Regions from separate parts of the Homo sapiens genome. Here all the other regions are reported to be linked to region 1. The links are microRNA targets in miRTarBase. Many come from high-throughput screens and were not tested one by one. Region 1 holds a microRNA gene; each other region holds the end of a gene's coding sequence.
What was found. The annotated mature microRNA hsa-miR-6722-3p reads UGCAGGGGUCGGGUGGGCCAGG and lies in region 1 at 2,217-2,238, shown strand. An mRNA with a match to its seed (bases 2 to 7 or 8) in the 3' UTR can be bound and repressed. Matches are read on the target gene's strand: a 7mer-m8 pairs with bases 2 to 8, a 7mer-A1 pairs with bases 2 to 7 and ends in A, and an 8mer does both.

Region 1 (4,309 bases):
TCCCAGGGAGGGGAGGCAGGAGGCAGCAGGGCCGGATGGTGGGCTGCAGAGGTGGAAGGAACAGGACAGTCTGTTCTGGGGGTGCTGGCTGTGGGGGACAGAGGCCAGGCCACAAAGCAGAATGGTGGGTGGGCCAGGAGGAGGTGGGAGCCTTTTTCAAAAGGCTTTCAGGGACTTTTTATATTTAATGATTGAAACAAAAGATATCCAAAACCGCAGTTCCTGAGAACCACTTGTTCTCGCCCTGGTTCCTCTCCTTGGGCTTGACCTTGGCCTCCTGCCGGGCCTGGCAGCGGACAGCAGTCTCCCTGCTTCCCAGGCTGGGCGAGGGAGAGCGTGGGTCCCCAGGAACGGGGGAGGTGGTGCGGCTGGCTTTAGGATGCCCATTCTGGAACCTTCTGGTGGAAGAAAGCAGGGGATCAGTATAGTATGGTTGATCCACACACTCCAGACCCTCTCCTGGCTGTGCAGCTGGTCTGATCTGGGCTCAGAGGCTGCCACTGCTCAGTGCTCCCCTGGGTAATTTTGCAGGAGGCCAGGAGGGTTCCTGGCAGTTAGTGCCACCCACACGGAGAAATTCAGAGCCATATAAACGGGTCTCCAGGGCCTGGAGGGACTGCACATCCTGGGCCTGCGGCGCAGTGTAGACCTGGGAGGATGGGCGGCCTGCTGCTGGCTGCTTTTCTGGCTTTGGTCTCGGTGCCCAGGGCCCAGGCCGTGTGGTTGGGAAGACTGGACCCTGAGCAGGTACAGTCCTCCTGGGGGTGGGGAGAGCTGGTCCTCGGGGGCCAGCCCCTCCTTTAAGGCCACACAGCTTCTGGGCCCCCCAGGGCTAGCCCAGACCAGCATGAGCAGTGGGGAATTAGTTGGGCCAGCCCTTGGGGAGTCCCACAGGCAGGAGCCTCAGGGCAGGAGGGGTGGATGCTGGAGGGTTGGAGGCTGGAGGGCTGGAGAATTGGAGGCTGGAGACTGGAGGTTGCAGGGCTGGAGGGTGTAGGGTTGGAGAACTGGAGGCTGGAGGGCTGGAGGCTGTAGGGCTGGAGAACTGGAGGCTGGAGGCTGCTGGGCTGGAGGCTGGAGGGCTGTAGAACTGGAGGCTGGAGGGCTGGAGGCTGGAGGGCTGCAGAACTGGAGGCTGGAGGGCTGGAGAGCTGGAGACTAGAGGCTGCAGGGCTGCAGGCTGGAGGTTGGAAGGCTGGAGGGCTGGAGCCTAGAGGCTGTAGGGCTGGAAGGCTGGAGGCTGGAGGGTTGGAGGTCTGGGGGGTTGGAAGCTGGAGGCTGGAGGGCTGGAGAACTGAAGGCTAGAGGCTGCAAGGCTGGAAGGTTGGAGGCTGGAGGGCGGGAGGGTTGGAGACTGGAGGCTGGAGGGCTGGATGGTTGGAGGGTGGAGGCTGGAGGCTGCAGGGCTGGAAGGCTGGAGGCTGGAGGGTTGGAGGCTGGAGGCTGGAGGGCTGGATGGTTGGAGGGTGGAGGCTGAGGCTGGAGGTTTGGAGGCTGGAGGCTGAGGCTGGAGGGTTGGAGGCTGGAGGCTGGAGGCTGGAGGGCTGGCGGCCCTAACGGGAGCCGCCTCAATGCAGCTTCTTGGGCCCTGGTACGTGCTTGCGGTGGCCTCCCGGGAAAAGGGCTTTGCCATGGAGAAGGACATGAAGAACGTCGTGGGGGTGGTGGTGACCCTCACTCCAGAAAACAACCTGCGGACGCTGTCCTCTCAGCACGGGTGAGTGGGCGGGTCCTGCCAGGCCTTCCCGCAGGCAGGACTGTGGCTCAGCCACATCATGTACTTTGCACATCTGCTCCCGGGCACCGCGGCCTGGGGGCTTCCCACGGCCCCTCTGCACCCCCGTCACTTTTCCCACTGGGCTCTGTGCAGAGCCACCAGCCCTCTGCCCAGCTACTCACATCTGTGTCCCTGGGGCCTCCAGGTGGCACTCCCACCTTCAATACCGCGGCGGGCACTGCTCTGACTATGCTCCTTCATGCATCCCTGTCCTGGGTCATCTGGGCTGCAGGCTGTGGTCAGAGCTGGGGAAGCCTGTCCTCTCAGCAGGCCTTTTTCGGGAATTCTGTTTAAAGGAGGATAATGCATTCGGACCTAAGAACCACTGGTTCTTTCATAACATAAATCCCCAAACAATATGGTCATGGACGCTGTTGGCCAGACTGGCCTTGTGGCCTCAGGCAGGCGCACCCGACCACATGCATGGCTGGTGGCGGCGTGCAGGGGTCGGGTGGGCCAGGCTGTGGGGCGGCCGTGCTACACAGGGGACACCTACAGGGCAGCCGGGCTGTGGGGGTAGCCGTGCTGGGGCAGGAGTCGGTGCCCGCCTCCCTTCACAGAAGAGTGGCCTGCTGGGTGGCGTGGTGGGTGTCTACCCCCTGGCAGGCTGGCGACAGAGCCCAGGCCTGAACCACTGAGCCAGGTACGGGGCCCAGAGAGAAGAACCTGCCCTCCTCACCAGCGTGCCTTCCCCCTGCACCTGCGCCTGCAGGGTATGGGCAGGGGCCCCACTGCACCCCCCGGGCCAGGCCTGGCCTCAGGGCGAGCTGGGACCAAGGGGCTCCAGGCTGAGGTGGCAGCTCCCACGTGGCTTTCCTAGTTCTTCTTGCTGTTCCTCCCGCATGGACTCAGCCTCAGTTTCCTTCCTTGGCAAACACCATTGCACCTTTGCTGGGTTTTGCTCACTCTGGGGACTGACCACTTAGGGAGCGCCGGCCCCTTCCCCCGAGTCGCAGGCAAACCCCCACCCCGCCCCATCCTTCCCCTGAGTCGCAGGCGAACCCCCACCCCACCCCATCCTTCCCCTGAGTCACGGGCGAACCCCCACCCCGCCCCATCCTTCCCCTGAGTTGCGGGCGAACCCCCACCCCGCCCCATCCTTCCCCTGAGTCACGGGCGAACCCCCACCCCACCCCATCTTTCCCCCGAGTCGCGGGCGAACCTCCCGTCTGTCGAGTCTCCTGTTGTGTCCTCAGCAGCATTCAGCGTTCCTGGTGGAGATCTGGCACTGAGGATCTCTCAGGAAGTGAATGGGAGTGTCCGCCCCTCTCAGGACTCCCACGCCGTCCACTCTCCGAGAACAGGTTTCCGGGCATCGGGGCATCTGGCAGAAGATGGAAGCTCTGGCCTCACTGCTGGCTGGCCTGGCCTGGACTCCTGAGCTCCGTCTCCTCTCACCGGGCCCCGGGGTCTTGACCCTGAGTGGGTGACAGGCCCCTTCTTTTCCAGGCTGGGAGGGTGTGACCAGAGTGTCATGGACCTGATAAAGCGAAACTCCGGATGGGTGTTTGAGAATCCCTGTGAGTCTGACGGCCACGGCCTCACCCAGGCCGTTCTTCCCTGCAGCATCCCCAGGCCCCCTGCGGGCAGGGACGGAGGGCTGACTCCGCTCCCGAGAGCCAGGAGGCTACAGGTTCTGGTCTTGGGATTGCTGCCCATCCTGAGGGTGAAGAGAAGCCCCTGGACAGAGGATTGGAACCTTGTTCCCAGCAGGCTCAGACACCAGTGAGGTCCAGCCAAGGTCCCCATAGGTGCAGAGGGCGAGGGGCCTGTTTAGTGGCTGTCTACAGGTACAGGGCTGGGCTGGTGTGACCCAGCCGCTCCTCGTTCACACCTGGGACAGGCTGGGGCAGTGCTTGTCTGTCTGTCCGTCAGTGTCTGAAAGCCCCTTGATGCTGGCACCAGGTGGGGTCGGGGGTGGGGGACAAAGCTTGGGGGCTCTGGGTGTGCTTGGAGGGGTCTCCTGGGGAGGGGGGCTCTCACTTGAATTGGCCCCTCTGTCCCTGTGGCCAGCATCAGCTCAGCGGCCCCTGGATGGATACAGCAGCTGCCCTCCCCTGAGGCGGGGGGTTTTGTTTCCTAGCAATAGGCGTGCTGGAGCTCTGGGTGCTGGCCACCAACTTCAGAGACTATGCCATCATCTTCACTCAGCTGGAGTTCGGGGACGAGCCCTTCAACACCGTGGAGCTGTACAGTAAGTGTGCTGTGCGGGGCCCACGTAGGGAGCTGTGTGGTGCGTGGGCCACTCGGGGCCCACGTTGGGAGCTGTGTGGTGCGTGGGCCGCTTGGGGGCCGCGTGGGGAGCTGTGTGGTGAGTGGGCCGCTCGGGGGCCATGTGGGGAGCTGTGTGGTGAGTGGGCCGCTTGGGGCCACATGGGGAGCTGTGTGGTGAGTGGGCCGCTCGGGGGCCATGTGGGGAGCTGTGTGGTGGGTGGGCCGCACAGGACCACATGCAGGCCAAGTTCCCCCACCTTGAGGCTCGCTGCACTGGAGGTGGCTTTGGAAGGACCGGGGCCAGCATCCCAGGGCAGG
Region 2 (4,000 bases), not on the chromosome of region 1:
AGAGCAACCACACCGTGGGCCCCTTGCTGGCGGCTGCAGCTGGTGCCCCAGCCCCTCTGTACCTCGGGGGCCTGCCTGGTGAGTGCGGCCTTGATCAAGGGTGGGGGAGCTGCCCCTCAGGACTAGGTGCTGCGTAACCTACCACCCTCCCCCCACCCCTCCACCCCCTGCCCCCTCCCACCCTCCTCCCACCCCCCTACCACCCTCCTATGATGTGGAATGAGACAGGGGCTGGGTGGGGCACTGACGTTTGGGAAGGGCCTGTGGGTCTCTAGCTGCCCACCAACCAGCCTTCTTCCATCTTCCCTGTGCCCCCAGAGCCCATGGCCGTGCAGCCCTGGCCCCCCGCCTACTGCGGCTGCATGAGGAGGCTGGCGGTGAACCGGTCCCCCGTCGCCATGACTCGCTCTGTGGAGGTCCACGGGGCAGTGGGGGCCAGTGGCTGCCCAGCCGCCTAGGACACAGCCAACCCCGGCCCCTGGTCAGGCCCCTGCAGCTGCCTCACACCGCCCCTTGTGCTCGCCTCATAGGTGTCTATTTGGACTCTAAGCTCTACGGGTGACAGATCTTGTTTCTGAAGATGGTTTAAGTTATAGCTTCTTAAACGAAAGAATAAAATACTGCAAAATGTTTTTATATTTGGCCCTTCCACCCATTTTTAATTGTGAGAGATTTGTCACCAATCATCACTGGTTCCTCCTTAAAAATTAAAAAGTAACTTCTGTGTAACCGAATGAATGTTGACTTAAATACGGAGAGAGTGAGTCTCAAGACAGATCTGGAACCGGCCTGGACAGAGGCACCAAACTCTTCCTGGGGTGACCGTTTTCCGTTGTTAGGTCAAATAACTAACTGTCTCTGGGACCCTACAGCAGCTCCCCACGCTAGCACCTGTCCAGCCGAAACTCCCTTTGGGCAAAGAAACTAAGCATTGGCAGGTAAAAGAAAAGACTTTATTAATAATCAGTGGGTGGGAGGTGAGGGTGTGCAACGCACTGCAAGCGCCCAGTTCCTCGGAGGACGGCGCGTGGCTCAGTCCAGGCTCATGTCCTCCTCTTCGTCCTTCTTGTCCTTCGTGTCGCCCTCTTTCTGCTCGGGCTTGGCGTTGTTCTGCATGGCTTTGGCAAACGCTTCCACATCTAGAACACGTTAAAGACACAAGGTGGTGTCTAACCCTTGCCCAGAACTGGGGATCAAAGCGATGGGATCAAGGGCAGAAGGGCTGTGACCTTTACCCCCTCAGCCCCACTTCTGCAGATCCAGGGGGACAGGAATGGACCCTGCCCCTGGCTCTGGCCTGGAGGTGCAGGCGCAGCCACTTACCGCCCTTGTTGGCGGCCTCCACAGCCTCTGCAGGCAGACCGAACTGGCACATGAGGGGGCCCAGCTGCCCCGAGGCCAAGGCTGCGCTGAACATGCCCAGGGCCTGCAAGAAGAGCCAGGCGAGGGCTGAGCTCCAACCCGGGCTGCACCCCAGAGCCACACTGCTCAGCTGCCAGCTCTGCGGGTCAGGCACATGAAGCACTGGCCATGGTGAAGGTGGGGCAGGGCCTCCTCCTCCCCCCTGCCCACTCCCTGAGCACACAGTGGAGGACACCCTGGGCCCGGCCTCTACCTGCTGGAACTGGGGCGAGGTCAGGGTATTCTGGATCTCATCCGCGGTCTGCGGCAGCGACTCCCCAGATGGCAAGTAGGGAAGCAGGCGCTCCTGGACATCCGCGTTGGCGAGGATGGGAGCCATTATCTCCGGCGTCAGCACACTGGCCAGGTCCACTGGGGCACAAGAACACGGCCATCAGCTCGATGACAGCCTAAGTGCCCACATGGAAGGCATGCAAGCAGGGACTCAGCCCATGGCCCCAGCACCCCAGGCGCGCACACTAGGCAGATGCCTTGGAAGGTGAGCGTGCGAGGGTCAGCAGGCCCCATGCCCCCCACCCAGCTCCAGGCGACAGCACACGTTACCTTGCTGGCCGCCTGCTGGCCCGGCTGGTACGTTCATCGTGGCCAGGATGCTCTGGAGGTCGCTCAGCTGGATGGGCTGGGTCGGGCTGGCTGCTGTGCTGGCTCCATTCCCGGAACTGGGCGCGGGGCTCGGGCTAGTTGCTGAGGCAGCTGCTGGAGCAGAAGGGGCTGGGGTGGCACGGGTGGAAGAGGTGGTGGATGACGGGGTGACCGCTGCCGACTGGCTCCGGGAGCTGCGAAGAGAGAGGGCACCGCTGGAGCGGACACGCCCCACACGGCAGGGCCTACTCGCAGGGTCCAGGGTGCTGGGCCAGGATTCCCCACTGCCCCTCCCTTAACACCGTGGCACCTGCGTGGCAGGAGCGATGAGGCTCACCTGGAGGAGGAGCTGCTCCCTGGAGGCCCACTGCTCCCCAGTAAGCTGGCCAGGCCAGGTCCAGTCAGGGCCCCCAGCCCACCTGCGAGGGGCAAGGAAATGCGAGCTCAGGATGCCCTCTAGCCCACCAGAAAGAGCCTGGCCCCTCCCCAGGCCAGAGGAGCAGGAATTCCCAACACCAAAGCCAGGAAGAAGCGGGGCGGTGGGGACCCACAGGCCTGGAGGAGCGGCGTGGGGCGGGTGGACACTTGCGGCTGTGTTCTGGAAGCAAGGTCATTTCTGTTCCATCCCATTACACAATTCATGTGCTTAGATTAGAAGATTCAGTCCAGATCCCACCCAAAGGGACAAGCATTTCTGAAGGGCCAAGCACACGGGTCTGCACTCCATGAGCTGGCAGCAGGCAGGCAGCCATGTAGGGCCAGGGGACCCAGGGCGCAGGAACCCCAGCTCCCTCCAGTCCTCCAGCCCCACCGCTCGGCCAGCCACCCTCCTCTGAAGTACCCAGCTGGGGTCCTCACCAGGGGCCCAGAAGCCCTCGCCTACCCAGCTCTAGCCACAGGCAAACAAGCGCATTCCCAAAGGGGAACCAGCTTGCGGACACACAGGCTCCCCGACACTACGCAGACAGAGCCAGCAGAAGTTTAAAGGAAACAGAGACCGGGCCTCAAAGCATTCCCAGCAGAAGCTGCCCGAGAGCCCGGGTGGCGCACGTTACCCAGTCCTCCAAGGCCGGCTGGTCCGATGAGCTGCATGAGCTGGCTGTGGCTCATGTTTCCCAGCAGGCTCTGCAGGCCACCCTCACCTGGAAAACACTGCAGCTCAGGCGGGCCTGCCCCAGCCAGATCCACGCGGGCCCCACCGCACTGCCTGCGCCTCTGCTGAGCACCGCACTCGGCTGCCCCTGAACCCTACAGGGGGCACCACTTGAAGTGAGGCGACGGTGGGATGCAGACCCGTCCTACCCCGTGAAGGTGGGAGTGGGGAGTGACCCAGGGAGCTCACAGGGTCTCTAACTTTTAGAATCTTCTATTTCCACTTCCAAACAACCTGTGCTGAGGGGGCGAGTCATCCACAGTAGACTCTGGCCTCCCAGGAAACCCTGAGCTCACGTGACACATGTGACAGTTACCGCCTAGCGCAGAGAGTTCGTGGCCGCTGCTTCCGCTGGCCCCCAGCGCCCCAGGCATCGGGGGGTTGTTCAGATACTCGTTGACTTTCCGGCAATGCTCCTCATCCTGGTCTGTCTTGGGTTCCTGCAAGAGGAAGGGCATGTAAGGGCAGGAGCTGGCGCCAGCTCACCCAGGGCCACCACAGCCATCCTCTGACCTGGCTTCCAGGTGAGGGACCTGAGACGCAGAGGCGCGTGTGCCTGGCCACACAATGCTGAGGAGACAGGACCCGGCCCAGCAGGTGAGGGGACGGCAGTGGCGCCTCCTGAGCACGATGCTCTGCGCCCTGTCCCCATCCGCCGCAATCCCGGGTGTGCCCTGTCCCCCTCCGCCCATTTCACAAATGGGGAGCCTAGAGCTCCGAAGGCACTTAGCTGCTGCCAGACCAAGCCCTCTCACCCTCCTGCCCTCTGGGGTGCGGTTCTTTACACACCCGTCTCCTTCCTTCAACCAGTGGAAGGCAGCGAACTGGCCCGCTCAGCACACC
Region 3 (4,000 bases), not on the chromosome of region 1:
TGACTCACTGAGAAACAACAGGTCATTTGGTTGGCTCTTCCCTCCCAGGACTGCAAGAACTGATCCCCTTTGTGAAGCCTGCGCCCATTGAGCAGGAGCCATCAAAGAAGCAGAAGAAGCAACATGAGGGCAGCAAAAAGAAAGCAGCAGCAAGAGACGTCACCCTAGAAAACAGGCTGCAGAACATGGAGGTCACCGATGCTTGAACATTCCTGCCTCCCTATTTGCCAGGCTTTCATTTCTGTCTGCTGAGATCTCAGAGCCTGCCCAACAGCAGGGAAGCCAAGCACCCATTCATCCCCCTGCCCCCATCTGACTGCGTAGCTGAGAGGGGAACAGTGCCATGTACCACACAGATGTTCCTGTCTCCTCGCATGGGCATAGGGACCCATCATTGATGACTGATGAAACCATGTAATAAAGCATCTCTGGGGAGGGCTTAGGACTCTTCCTCAGTCTTCTTCCCCGGGCTTGAACCCCGCCTCTGAGGTTCTCCCTGATATACACTTCTGCTTTTCCTTCCAAATTAGGCTGCTCCCTCCAGTTAGCAAGTCACAGAGCCTTTGAACAGGTAAGCGAAGGGAGGGGTACACTTAGAAAAAGCTCAAGGGGAAGGTGGAAGATGGAGTCTGAATCACAAAAGCTTGCAGGGCAAGGGCCAGGATCCTCCTTTACAAATATATTCCTGCTTGAAATCATTGAGGTAGGACTAGCTTAGAGACCAGAACTGTTTTAAAAGCCTCTTAGCACTTCTGTTCCCTACAAAGGACTCTGTGGAAAGCGAGAGGCTGTATTTAATCCAGAAGAGCCCCTAGCTTCTATGCCTAGCATGGGTTGGGGACTTATTAACAGCAGTTTCTCTCGTTACAGCCATCCCCACATGGGGAGACCAACTGCATACCAACTTGCTGCTGCACCTCCAAAGGATTGGGATAGCCAGCAGGGCAGAGGAGAGGAGAAAATGTTGTAGCCCCTTTGTGGAGCTCCCACTGTTGCCCTAATAGCCAGTTCCTTTCTCAGGGGAGGCTGATGTTCAGGCTGTTTATTTACCTGCTGCCTTTCATCTGCAATCTACAAACCCTTTACTTTAATAACAGCTTCTGTTAGTTTAGTGCCTCTCTCCTAGGAGGTTAAAATACTCCCTATAGATGATCTCTTTTATCTTTGTGATGGTCCCAGAAGGTAGGGTGGGGACATGATTATATGATTATGCTTATTCCATCCTTTGGAAGACAGAAATACAAGGACGGTAAGGGAGATGAGACAACGTGGCCTGATGGAGGTCGGAAGTCCTGACTCCTCGGCAGTGCTTTATGTTTCTTTGGGAGGTTGAGAGCTGGAATGTGAACTGGGCTGTCACTTAGGAGCCTTTATCTCACCTCAGCTTCCTTAGTCCCTGAGCAGCGACTTGGGCCTGCTGGAGCATAGTACCAAGGAAAGGGGCCATGTGCTCCATTTTCCACTGGGGGCTTGAGATTGATCCTATTAATCTTGCTGCTGGAAACCCTGTCAAAACTGAGGTAGGTGCGTGAAGGGGTGACAGTGGCTCTCTTGTCTTGCCTGGCTATGCCAGCTGGGGGCCCACAGGCAGACCCGCCTGGGCCGTAGCCCATTGCCCCAGCTCTGGGATAACAAAGCCGGGACAAGGGGACAAAGAGCAAGCTGCTCCCATTTGTAATTCAGAAGGACCAGAAACTCACATTTCCTGTGGCCTCAACTATTTGGTTTGAAGAAAGGCAGCGTACACAGTGTGCAGGAGGCTAGTTTTGCCCCACCCCCTATACCATTCCAGAAGCCCACTGGGAACTCTCACAGGGCCCTGAACGCCCCTGCTCTGCCTTAGCTCTGTCTTAGAAGTCCCTACAGCTGCCTGCACCACTCCCCACGCCTACCTGCTTAGGCTCCTGGTGCCTGTCACCTTCCTACCAGTAGGAGGCTCTGCTTTTTGCCATGGCCCTGAGAGCTCTGTGGGAGGGCAGAAGCTGGGGCTTTGAGTCCCTGAGGACCCAGCTGACTTACCTGCTGGAGCTGGCTGCCTGGACTCTCAGCTGCTTTGTGCAGAGAGACCCTCCTGCCTTGGGCAGCCCAGCTTTCCCTGCCAGCCTTCCTCCTGCCCGTGTAGGGACTGGTGTAGGAGCCTGGCTAGGAAGATGGCTGTATGGACAAACTGGCTTGTTAGCAGAAAGTAACTATAAGGGACCCCATGCTTCCAGAAGCCAGAGGAGAGGAAGTCAATGGTAGTGAAGGCAAGGATGACTGTGGCTGAGGTCCCTCCCCACAGGTCATACCCAAGAGCACAACAGCAGGAGGGCACACACGGTCACCGAGTGCTTACCTTGTGCCAGGCACCATTAGGAGCAGGGTTTACAGAAAGAAGGTAACACAGTTCCTGCTCACAAATAACTGTTGGGAAAGGTGTGGTTCGCCTTCCTTCAGAGAGGGAAAACCAGACACTCTCCCTCCCTGAGGCAGTGGGATGGGGCTGATGCAAGCTTCATTTAGGAGGGGCCGACCCACCTGGAAGCCGAGCAGTTGGGAACAGGCCCAATAGCCTTGACTCCACCCTGGTAGTTGCCTCCGCATCCCACGCCTGATGCCCTCATCTCTGGCACCTTGACCTGCCCCATCTCCAACCTCAGCTACCCAGGTTACCTCAGTTAGCAAACACCCTCCAGAGGCCTAGTGGAGTGAGTCAGAGCCCTGGGTCCCTCACCAACCCTGGGTTCCCACACCCAGGTATTCAGGGCCCAAGATGCAGGTCTGGGTGCTTTAGGCAGGGAGTGAGGAAACACTGGGACCAACAGTCTGGCCTCTCCACCAAGAGAGACAACCATAAGCCAGACTTCTAGAAACTCTAAAGAGGCTGGTAACTGGGGACCCAACGTAAGGCCGAGGGACCTGCCTGCGCTCACAGTCCAGGCTGGGCAGGGCAGCTCATTAGCCAAACACTGAAACCTCACTCCTGGGAACCAACATTCTCCTAGCCGTCTGTCCTGCTTTTCCTCCCCTGAAGCTTTTCCGGTTTACCCCAGGTCCTGAGAATGCCTCCTCTCCCCGAGTCCCCATCCTTCCCCAGGGGGTACGCGGCGGGGGCGGCCCTGGCTGCACTCCCAGGATGAGTCTGACAGGCAGAGCTGGGATGGGCGCCAGACAAATGTACTGCGTGTCGGAGCCTGTGCCGGGATGAGGGGCCTGCCCCGCTCTCCCAGTTACCTCCCAACATGGGGTTCCCCAGCAGCTCTTCCCAGGTACAAAAGGGGAGTGCTTCCTTGCAGCCTGGACTTGGCCAGGTCCTGGTGGGGCTGATGCCTCGGCCTCTGACATTGCCCTTTTAAGAGCCCTCTCCGGCGGGGCCAACCTGTAATCCCAGCGCTTTGGGAGGCCTAGGAGGGCGGATCGCCTGAGGTCAGGAGTTCGAGACCAGCCTGGTTAACATGGTGAAACTCTGATTCTACTAAAAATACCAAAAATTAGGCGAGCATGGTGGTGCGCACCTGTAATCCCAGCTACTCAGGAGGCTGAGGCAGGAGGATCGCTTGAACCCAGGAGGCATAGGTTGCAGTGAGCCGAGATTGTGCCACTGCACTCCAGCCTGGGTGACAGAGTGAGACTCTGTCTCAAAAAAATAAAAATTAAAAAAGCCCTCCCCATGGGGGTGGGGTGGGGGTGCTGCAGGCAGGTTCATGTTGCAGAAACCCAGCAATGTGCAGCTCCCCATCCATCTGCCAGGAAAGAAGCCCTGAACTCCAGGTCTTTACCTCTCTGGGACCTTCCGGCGGAGGTAGGGTGTCCCAGCCACCTCCGAGAGAACCTCTTGTTACGGAGGGGCGGGTCCTCTTCTGCTGCTCTGACTGGCTGGTTCACAAGCCCTGCATTTTGGAGATTGGTCCCTGTCCCTCCATGGGACTTGGTTCCCTTCCCCCTACACAAACCTGCTGTCAAAATGGTCTGGGAGTTTATTTTCATTGGGGTGTAAATTGCTGATAAGACGGTGTGACCT

Region 2: the mRNA of LAMA5 is a reported target of hsa-miR-6722-3p. Seed matches in the 3' UTR shown: 8mer at 488-495.
Region 3: miRTarBase lists SARS1 as a target of hsa-miR-6722-3p. Seed matches in the 3' UTR shown: 7mer-m8 at 300-306.

The regions. Positions count from the first base shown.
Region 1 is chr9:136,744,832-136,749,140 of GRCh38, reverse strand. It overlaps MIR6722 (microRNA 6722), which reads left to right and starts at 2,171; the gene lies at 2,171-2,248. LCN6 (lipocalin 6) reads left to right here and starts at 616. Exons shown (of 7, transcript NM_198946.3): 1 at 616-747; 2 at 1,578-1,717; 3 at 3,227-3,297; 4 at 3,861-3,971. The coding sequence starts at 658. LOC100128593 (a long non-coding RNA gene) reads right to left here and starts at 2,980. Exons shown (of 3, transcript NR_033913.1): 1 at 2,940-2,980; 2 at 569-2,063; 3 at 1-395.
Region 2 is chr20:62,305,794-62,309,793 of GRCh38, reverse strand. It overlaps LAMA5 (laminin subunit alpha 5), which reads left to right. Exons shown (of 80, transcript NM_005560.6): 79 at 1-78; 80 at 319-729. The coding sequence ends at 458. It overlaps ADRM1 (ADRM1 26S proteasome ubiquitin receptor), which reads right to left. Exons shown (of 10, transcript NM_007002.4): 4 at 3,474-3,597; 5 at 3,060-3,146; 6 at 2,342-2,423; 7 at 1,966-2,198; 8 at 1,616-1,773; 9 at 1,324-1,426; 10 at 932-1,139. The coding sequence ends at 1,033. Among named protein-coding and RNA genes, the nearest start is that of ADRM1, 4.8 kb to the right of the region's middle. RefSeq lists an enhancer at 3,505-4,000.
Region 3 is chr1:109,237,683-109,241,682 of GRCh38, forward strand. SARS1 (seryl-tRNA synthetase 1) reads left to right here. Exons shown (of 11, transcript NM_006513.4): 11 at 49-500. The coding sequence ends at 206. Among named protein-coding and RNA genes, the nearest start is that of CELSR2, 9.9 kb to the right of the region's middle. RefSeq lists enhancers at 1-518, 2,459-3,154 and silencers at 1,643-2,057, 3,165-3,459.